Regions from separate parts of the Homo sapiens genome. Here region 2 is linked to region 1. Evidence: fine-mapped expression QTL. Tissue or cell type: monocytes after Pam3CSK4. Region 1 holds a variant in brackets; the other region holds the start of a gene. All regions are shown on one strand. Distances are from middle to middle.

The links. PIP is the estimated chance that this variant, and not a neighbour inherited with it, causes the effect.
Region 2: it holds the start of STK10, and the variant in region 1 is fine-mapped to the expression of STK10 in monocytes after Pam3CSK4 (Quach 2016, PIP 0.95).

What each region holds. Positions count from the first base shown.
Region 1 is chr5:172,626,188-172,631,387 of GRCh38, forward strand. The region is part of intron 1 of LOC107986478 (a long non-coding RNA gene); the gene reads left to right. Among named protein-coding and RNA genes, the nearest start is that of NEURL1B, 12 kb to the right of the region's middle. RefSeq lists enhancers at 63-717, 4,362-4,862. The variant A/AACAC (reference allele first, on the strand shown) is at 2,857.
Region 2 is chr5:172,185,875-172,190,984 of GRCh38, forward strand. It overlaps STK10 (serine/threonine kinase 10), which reads right to left and starts at 2,350. Exons shown (of 19, transcript NM_005990.4): 1 at 2,013-2,350. The coding sequence starts at 2,168. RefSeq lists enhancers at 173-222, 493-542, 1,203-1,282, 2,335-3,110 and silencers at 1,743-1,822, 1,953-2,002, 2,303-2,662.

The DNA of each region.
Region 1 (5,200 bases):
CAGATGGGTGGGCACAAGGCCCTTTCAAGGCAGCTGTTAGGATAGGGGCCTGCTTTGTGGGGTCTTTTCAAGAGCTGTGGCCACACACAACAGGGGATCAGAGAAGCCCCTTTCTTTGCTTTCTTCTTCCACACCTGCTCAGCCACCTGTTCCTCCAAAGGCTCCGGCCTCTCTCCTTCTCCTCTTGCTGACTCCACTGGGCTCCTCCTCCCTCTCCTGAGCCTCTTCCTGCTCCCCCACTGAGGCCCTCAGGGCTCCTTACAGACCAGACACCTGCCCTTCTTCCTCCACAAATCCTCAGCGCAGCACACAGCTTGGCTCCCAGGCCTTTGCCTGTGCTGTTCCTCCCCCATGAGTGCCCTTCCCGCTTGTCGTCACTTGTCAGAGTCTACTCACACCCCTGTTAAGAAAGAGCTCTTCTGGCCTGGCGCGGTGGCTCACGCCTGTAATCCCAGCACTTTGGGAGGCTGAGGAGGGTGGATCACCTGCGGTCAGGAGTTTGAGACCAGCCTGGGCAACATGGAAAAACCCCATCTCTATTAATAATACAAAAATGAGCCGGGGGTGGTGGTGGGTGCCTGTATTCCCAGCTACTCAGGAGGCTGAGGCAGGAGAATAGCTTGAACCTGGGAGGCAGAGGTTGCAGTGAGCCAAGAGCGTGCCATTGCACTCCAACCTGGGTGGCAGTGTGAGACTCTGTCTCAAAAAAAAAAAAAAGAAAGAAAAGAAAAGAAAGTGCTCTTCGTATTTGGGGTTCACATAGCCCCTAAGAGAATTTTGAAAACCACGTCCCCCACACAAACGCTTTTAGTTGGCATCTGAATGTTTTATCCTAAATGTAAATAGTTGCAAAGGTAATTTCTAGCGTGCTGTATGCTGAACATGCGCTTTAAATAAAATCTCACCAAAACCTTGGAGCTGTGGATTCCGCTCACTTATTTGCCTGAAAACTCTTCCATGCACACTGAGCGGCAAAGCCACTGCTCTCCACCGCACCATGCAGCCAGGTCAGGCTGACTTTCAGGCAGGAACTATATGAGTTCATTTTCTAATCTGCAAACATGCTAATATGCATGTCTGCATCACCTCTCTCTTCTGAATTTTATTTCTAAGTCTAAGACGGACAGGGCATTTGGCACCTGGATGGAACGAGGCTTCATCCTTCTGGCTTTCTCATGATGCTGTCTTGCTCTCCTGCCTGGGGATGCTTCCTTAGCACCTGGATGCAAATTGCCTTCCATTTAGTGCCCTGGAAGACGTTCTTTTAAACTTCTTATTGTGAAATTCCACACACAGAGAGAGGGCCCATTGTGTACGGATAAAACTCACGTGAAAACTAAAATGTGCAGTTCAATAATTGATCAAAAAGCAATCATCAAGTGAAGAAATAGAACATTTCTAGCTCCCCAGAACCCAGCCTTGGGCCACTGCTAATCACTACTCCTCCCTCTTGTTCAAAGGCAATCACCGTCCTGCATTTTACGATAGGCATTTCTTGCTTTTCTTTTGAGTTTTATCACCTACACACGCTGGGCTTTGAACATCATGTAAGTGGAGTCCCGTAGTATGCATTCTTTTGTGTCTGGCTTCTTTCACAGAACATTATGTGTGTGAATCACTCGGGTCGCTGTGTGTAGCTGTATTTTGTTTTTTCTCATTACGGCATAGTATTCCACTTTGTAAGGGTCTCCTAACTTATTGATCCAGTCTATAGTGGATGGACATTTGGGTTGTTCTCAGTTTGGGGCCATTTTGAATAGCATTTGATGAAAGCTATGATGCATTCATCAGCAGGTCTTTAGGTTCACATAAGTAAGCATTTCTGTTTGGCCTATGCCCAGGAGAGGAATTGCTGGATCATGGGGGTAGAAGTATGTTTAACTATGATAGATACTGCCAAATACTTTTCTAAAGTGGTTGTACCATTTTACACTCCCATCAGCCAGGTAGAAGAATTCCTGTCAACTCTTGGTATTGTCAAAATTTCTTCACATTTCTGTCAACTCTTGGTATTGTGAAAATTTTAAATCTCAGCCAATCTAGTTGGGGTGCTGTGGTTATTTCATTGCGACTTTAATTTTAGTTTTCCTGGTTATTGACAAGATTCAGTATCTTTTATATATTTATTGGCTATTGGAACATTCTTGTTGTGAAGTACCTGGTTTTGCTCATTTTATATTGAGTTGTTAGTTTTTGTCATATTTTTAGTTGTGTTTATTCTGGGGGAAAAAGTAGGCTCTCTTGTAGTTGTATGTGGGCAAAGTATCTTTCCCCACTCTGTAACCTGCCTTTTCACTCTCCTTTGAATGTCTTTTGACAGAAAGAATTTAAATTTCAATGGAGTTGATTTCATCAATCCTTTTGGTATGGCCACCACTTCCTGTGCCGTGTTGAAGAATCTGTCTACTGCTCTGAAGGCATAAAGCCGTTCTCTACTTTCTAGAAGTTTTACATTTTGTCTTTAACATGTATGTCTACAATTCCCCTGAAATTGATGTCATGAATGGTTTGAGGTCGGGATCAAGCTCCATTTTTTTCCATATGGATGGCCAATTCACCCAGCACTGGTCATTGAAAAGCTTGGCCTCTCTCCCAATACTTGGCAGTGTCACATTTGTCATAAAACATGCATCCATTTATGTCTGACTTTTTTATTCTATCCCATAGATAGATCTATTTGTCTATCCTTGTACCAACACTGCACTTATTTACCATCGCTTTATAATAGGTTTTGATAGCCAGAAGAGCTATCAACTCTTCTGGCTAAAAGTTCTTCCTTTTCAAAAATTGGTTATCCTTTACCCTTTGGGTTTCTACATACATTTTTTTGAAAACTAGAATTTGTTTTCCAAGTTA[A/AACAC]ACACACACACACACACACACACACACACACACACACACCCCTGTTAGGATTTTGATTAGAGGTGTATGTGTTGAATCTATAAGTCAGTTTGCAGAGAATTGACTTATTTAAAATATTGAGTGGTCCCACCATGAATATGATATATCTATTCATTTATTTTAGCATTTTTTGCTTCCTCTTAATAATAATCTATAGTTTTCTGAGTATTTTTTAGGTGAACCAATTTTTAAAAATCTATTAAGTGAATGATAGTACCGGCAACATTTGAATATGGAAAATCACGAAGACAGCCTCCATCCAGCAATGTTTCCAGGATGTTTTCTCTGTACCTCCAGCTGGCCTGGTATCAAAGGGACTTCAAACTGTACCTATGTCTGGGCCCTGCCCCTGGCCCTTCTTCCCCTGCCCAATCAGAGGCTAGCCCAGAGCTGGGGCCCCTAATAAACATGTACTGAAGTGAACACTGTCGGTCACAGGCTCAGCCCCCAGTGTTCAACTCATTACTAGAAAACTGACAATCCAATCCATGCCAACATGCTAAGGACAAGTCTGTTTCAGCTCACTGTATAAAACTGTATTATTTCAAAAGTAGTCTATTGAGTTCTCTCCCATTAGAAAAGTTTTGGTCAGGTGTTGTGGCTCACACCTGTAATCCCAGGACTGTGGGAGGATCACTTGAGCTCAGGAGTTTGAGAGCAGCCAGGGTAACATAGTGAGGCCTTGTCTCTTAAAAAAAAAAAAGAAAAAATTAGCTGGGCATGGTGATGCACGCCTGTGGTCCCAGCTACTTGGGAGGCTGAGATAGGAGGATTGCTTGAGCCCAGGAGCTTAAGGCTGCAGTGACCCATGATTGCAGCACTGCACCCCAGCTTAGGTGACACAGTGAGACTCTGCCTATCTCAAAAAAGAAAAAAAGTTTTATACATACTCATTACAGAATATTTAGAAATTGGCCAATAGGTAGAAAAAGGTGGAAAAAAATCACCCATATTCCTGTTCCTCAGAGATCATCACTGGCCATGTTTTGCTATGTTGCCTTTCACCTTGTTTCTATACACATTTTATGTTTGCTTATTTTCTTTTTACAAGCTTGAAATCACCCTGAGTTTAGAGTTCTGTGTTCAGCCTTTCTCACTTAACATTAAAACAGCCTTCTCCCTGCGACTCTAAACCCTTTGGGAATATCACAGCCAGGAGCTCTGTGATTGTATTGAGTGGCTTGCCTGTTTACTAAGCCACTGCCCTGTGGTAGGAAGTGTTTGTGACTTTATTCAGGTGTACGTGGTGTACAGTGAGCGTCTCTGGCCATCAATTAGCTTTGTCCCTATCTATCTGGGATTACATCCTCAGGACAGGTTCCTAGAAGTGGATTCCAGACTTGAAGAATGTGAGCAGAAGCCTATGAGGAGTTTAACAGCGGGAGTTCGAACCTGCAACTGTGGCTGTCATGGGGCACCTGTTTCTTGAGGATTTACTATTGCCAGACACTTGTGTAAATGCTGAAGCCTTATTAACTCATTTAATGCTCATGGCCCCCTCAGCTAGTTTCTGTTATTTGACTCATTCTACAGATACAGAACCTGCAGCACAGACAGGTCACGTGACCAGCCCAAGGTCACACCTGGTAAGTGCCCAAGCTGGGACTCAACCCTGGACCCTCAGGCTTCAGGACCCTGCCCTGACACCACAGGCAAATGGAGGATCCCGTTGGCTCCTTGAGACACTCGCACCTCCTCTCGTGGGCTTCTTCCTCTTGGCCTAAGGAATCTCTTCCTTCTGCAGGCGAGGAGTGAGGTGGAGGACGGGCCTGAGTCCACTCTGTCCCAGCTGCTTAGCCAAAGGGCAAAGCCTTCACCTCTCCGAGCTGCAGTTTCTTCATCAGTGAAACGGGCAAAGAGGGTCCCATAAATCTGAAAAGAGGCCACAAAAGGGGAATGGCTCTGTGAACTCGAAAGTGCTCCCAGGTGCTGGGTTCCCACAGATGGGCTGTCTGCTGCATGAATTTGCTTGGGGAAGGAAGAAGTCTCTGTCCCTGTCACCCACTCCTGGCTGGCCCAAGCCTGGAGTTCTTCCCACTTCACCTCGACTGACTGATTTTCTCAGAGCAGCGTCCTGACACCAGCTGGGCTGTGATGGGCAGTCCTTGCTGGTGGCTGAGTGGGAGTGGCTGCTCATCCCATGGTCCCCAGCGTCTGAAGCTAGGTGCTGCACAGAACAGGCGCTCCAGCAGCAGTCATGGGAGGCAGTTTCAGAGAGCCCTCCTGGGGTGTCACCCAGTTAAGATGCCGGTGGTAGCAAAGCAAACAGGAGTGGCAGGGGGCCAGAGATTATCATTTTACACCT
Region 2 (5,110 bases), 440 kb before region 1:
GACAGCAAGTCGGGGCAGTCCAAAAGCACTGCCTCTCGGATCACAAGACCTCTCCCTACCCCATAACAGGAAGTGTGGGCTCAGAGGGGAGGTGGCAAGGAAACAAAACAGGCACCAGGCCAGGCACAGTGGCTCACGCCTGTAATCCCAACACTTTGGGAGGCCGAGGTGGGTGGATCAACTGAGGTCAGGAGTTCGAGACCAGCTTAGACAACATGGTGAAACCCCGTCTCTACTAAAAAAACAAAAATTAGCCAGGCATGGTGGTGTGTGCCTGCAATCCCAGCTACTTGGGAGGCTGAGGTAGGAGAATTGCTTGAACCCAGGAAGTGGAGGTTGCAGTGAGGGCCGAGATCAAACCACCGCACTCCAGCTTGGGCAATAGAGTGAGACTCCGTCTCACAAAAAATAAAAATAAAAAAAGACACTGAGTGGGCCTGGTTGGTCTCAAAATTGCCACCGCTCCAGGTCAGGCAGGGTGGCTCACCGCTGTAATCCCAACACTTTGGGAGGCTGAAACGAGCTGATTTCATGAGCTCAGGAGTTCATGACAAGCCTGGGCTACGTGGCGAAACCCCAAGTCTACAAAAAATACAAAAATTAGCCGGGCTGTGGTGTGCACCTGTAGACCTAGCTACTCCGAAGGCTGAGGCAGGAGAATTGCTTGAGCCCAGGAGGCAGAGGTTGCAGTGAGCCGAGATCGGGCCACTGCACTCCAGACTGAGCAACAGAGGGAAACCCTGTCTCAAAAAAAAGAAAAGAAAAAAGAAAAAACGCCACCACTCCAAGCCTCTAGGGCAGTACTTCTCAAACCTATTTGCTTAGGAATCACCTGGGATCTTATTAAAACGTAGACTCTAATTCAGCAGGTCGGGGCTGGGCATGAGATTGTTCACTTCTGACAAGCTCCCAAATGATGCTATTATAACACCGGTCATCTAGGAACTACTTCGGTAACTAGGCGATAGACCACTTCCAAGTCAGAGGAGAAGGCCTGGAGAAGCCTTCTCTGTGGTCCAGCCTCATAGAACGGCAATCCTAGGGTCAGAGTGCCCTACAAGCTACAGGAGCCCCAAGGAGGAGGATAGTGGCTTAGAAGAGAGGTGCTCTCCTGGAGGTATACACCAATTTAACAAGTGGGCGTCTCCCAGTAAAAATTTTCTTAGGGGAAAGGGGGGAGTCAAGCTGTAGGTGTTGGCTCCCTAAAACAACTCACCACCTCAGAATTAGCTCCCAGGAGCAGAAACCAACGTCCTGCTGCCACACTTCTCTAGACTCAATCAGCTCTGCCCCACCCACTCCACAAAAGCTCTCTGCCGCGTCTTCCTCTAGGGGAGAGGTGACTGCAGGCTGGGAGACTCCCCAGCTGTGACTCAGACCGACGGAATCAAATCTGTTCCCCCAGGCTCAGCATTCACCAGATCCTGACCTCCCCCTCTGACCAGCCCCAACCCACCTTTCCAAGCCCCACCTCTCAGTCCATGGGCCACCCCTCGCCCACCCCACTTCCCTGTCTCTGGCTCATCTTCAGATGTGTCCCTAGCTCCCAACCCGTCCAAGCGCAGCCGAGTTTCTCGGTCCACATCGCCTCGATATTCCCACAGCATCTGTGGTCTCTCTTAAAAAAAAAAGTGTGCCCGTATCGCCGTTTTACGGAACGTCCCTGGAAGGTCCCTCGAGTGGCCCTCTCGGATGCTGAGGTCCTGTCAACGCCCCTTTGTCTCCCCGTGCGGCGCCGAGCGCAGTGCAGGACACACAGGAAGTGCTCCGAAACAGGGCTAGGGTGGGGGCGGCAACCGTGCCCGGAGGGGGCGCCCAGAGCGCAGGGACTCGGCCGGGCCGAGTGATGTTCCCCCCAAAAAACAAGAGTCATCGGGATGAGGGCCAGGGACCCCGAATTCAGCGCCGGGCAGCCCTCGGAGCCGGAGCCAGGCTGGCCGGGTCCGGCTCAGGCATCCCTTCCTTCCGGAGCCCCTCGACGCGCGTCCGGCCACCCACCTCAGCGCCCTCACCTTGTAAACCTTGCCGAAGGCGCCGTCGCCCAGCTCGCCCACGATCTCCCACACCTCGTTGGGGTCCAGGTCGCGGCGGACGTGCTCATATTCGCGGGACTTTCTCTTCTCGAAGGTAGACAGGCGCAGGATGCGGCGGAAATTGGCAAAAGCCATGGCCGGGGGCGCGGTGGCGCCGGCTCGGGCTCGGGCTCGGGCTCGGGCTGTGGCTTCGGCGGCCGCGAGGAGAAGGAGGAGGAGTTGGAGGACGCCGCGTCTCTCGGGGTTCTCCCCAGACCCGCCTTTCCCCGCAGCCCGACCTCGGTCAAGTGTGCCCTGGGCAGCGCCGCGCCGGGAGCACCCGGAACCGCGCAGGCGGCGGCGTGCCCGCCCCCGCCCCCGCCCTGTCAGGTCCCCAGGGCCGCCTCCCTTGTGCCGGCCTCGCAGCTCCTGCCCGGCCCAGCCCTGCCTGCGAGAGCCTCGGACCCGTTCCAGGGGACCGTCCCCGCGCCCGCCCACCGGCCCGGCTCCACCCGCCGCTCCCCGGCAGAGCCCCGGGACCCCCTAATTGGCTGCGGGCGCTCCCCGGCTCCGCCCGTCGCCGCAGGGCACTCTGGAAACTGTAGTCCCCCCACACCACGCTCCGCGAGCCGCGGGCTGGGCTTTGGGGAAGCTTCGGGGACCGCTCGGTGGGACCGCTCATGGACTCAGGAGCCCGCCCGCCGCGCCGCGTGGCTCCCAAAACTTTTATGGGAGCAAGCGGGACGGCGACTTGGCATTTCGCGAGAGCCCACGGATCGTTGTCAGCGCCCAGAAGGTGAACCTGCACTCGTTCATTTAATCCTCCCGCAGCTATTCCGCTAGGCTGCCCTCGCCCCCACTTTTCCGATGGGGACGCCGGCAGGCGAGGGCACTCGCCCCAGGCACACACGCTGGCTGCCCGTCTGCTGCGGGTTCCTCGGCGCGGTGCTGCCTCCTAGTGTGCGACGGGCAACGCCGGTGCAGCCGCGGCCAGTCCCTGCAGGGCCCGGCTTCCCGGCGCGGTCCTTTCCAGGGGCTCCCCGTCCACGATCCACAAACCTGCCAGGATTAGAGGGCTGGGAGAAAGAGCTCCTTTGGCACTGATTTCTCTTATGTTTCCTGATGGGTTTGCGGATGTATTTGCATATTAAATAAAAACTTTATTCTAATTTTTAATTTCCTAGTTTCAAAAAAGATGAGCGCACTACATACAGATCAAACTAAAGTCTTCTTTGAGCACCTTCATTCTCGATCCTGGCTACTTGAGTCACTTCACTGCTACTGTTGCCTGTTTGTCCTATAGACGGTTATAACATGCTTTTACCTGAATCTAAGGAGAGTGCTGGGGGTGGGGGGGGGGGGCGGGCAGTCTGCAAGGGTTATTATTTGGACCGTGTCATAAACAAGTTGAGTCTTCGCAAATGTCACAGTTCAATAGCTCCAACCCCAGAGAACGGCTGTGTTGAGGTGTTTTCGCCCCTTCCTCGGTGCTTTGTTCGAAAACATCCTTTGAACAGTGTGCAAACACCAAGCATGGTTTTCCACTGGGAAAGCCAGCTCAAGAAGCCTGCGATGCTGGTAGTGGTCGGCGCAGAGGGTGTCCTGGTTGCTAAGCCGTTCGGAATGTTTCCACAGCTGCAGGAGTGCCTGGAATTGTAGAGGGTCTTTAAAAGAAGGAAACGCCGCTCGTCGCTGACCGTTCTCATTGAGTCAGGCGCTGTCTGAACCTCCCAAAACATGCTGAAAGGCAGGTCTTTCATTTGTTTCAGACCATTTGGCCAACTGTACGAAGCGGGTGGGGAGACCAAGAGGGTTGCTTCCATACTAGGAGATGAAGGCTCTGACTCCACGAAAGCTGTAGGCCTGGAGGGCTCTGACCAGCTCTGAGAGCTCCAGAAAAGCAAGCAAGCGAGAGAAAGAGAGAGAGAAAGGAAAGAGAGAAAGAGAGAAAGAAAGAAAGAGAAAGGGAAAGGAAAGGAAGAAAGAGAGAAAGGAAAGAGAGAAAGAGAGAAAGAAAGAAAGAGAAAGGGAAAGGAAAGGAAGAAAGAGAGAAAGAAAAAGGAAAGGAAGAGAAGGAGAGAGAAAGAGGGAGGGAGGGAGGGAAGGAAGGAAGGGAGGGAGGGAGGAAGGAAGGGAAAGAAAAACGGAGAGGTTCATTCATTCAATAACACTAAGTCAAAGAAGCCAGACACAAAAGGCCCTGTGTTCTATAAATTTCCATTTATATGAAATGTCTGGAAAAGGCAAATCCATACAGACAGAAAGTAGATTAATGGTTGCCTGGAGCTGGGTGTGAAATGGGAATTAACTGTACATGAACAATAAACAGTCTAATTGGGGTGATGAAAATGTCCTAAAACTGCACAATGGTGACAATTTCATAATTTGGTAAATTTGCCAAAAATAATTGAATTTTAAACTTTCATTTTTGTAAATGGATGAATTTTATGTGTAAATTATACCTCAATAGCATTGTAAGAAATACATTGAGGTTCAATAGAATCAAAGCTACTTCTTTGAAATAACTAATAGACAAGACTAGTCAAAGAAAAAGAAAAAAAGGGTCGGGCACGGTGGCTCACACCTGTAATCCCAGCATTTTGGGAGGCCAAGCTGGGTGGATCACCTGAGGTTAGGAGTTCAAGACCAGCCTGGCCAACATGGCAAAACCCCAGCTCTACGAAAAATACAAAACTTAGCCGGGCGGGGTGGTGCACGCCTGTAACCCAAGCTACTTGGGAGGCTGAGGCAGAAGAATCACTTGAACCCAGAAGATGGAGGTTGCAGTGAGCCGAGATCGTACCATTGCACTCCATCTAGCCTGAGCAACAGAGCAAGACTCCGTCTCAAAAAAAAAAAGAAAAGAAAAAAAAAAAATTGGTGCAAGAAAGAAATATTCACTGGAAGAAATAAAAAATGAAAAGAGAACATCAGATTAGATACTGTAGAAATTTTGATAATCATAAAGTGATATTTTAGACAAATTTATGTGAATAAATGTTTTAATTTACATAAAATGGGTAATTATTGAGAAGAAAATATAAATGATAGGTAAAAGATAATTTCAATAAGAAATAAAAACCTAAATAAACTAGTAA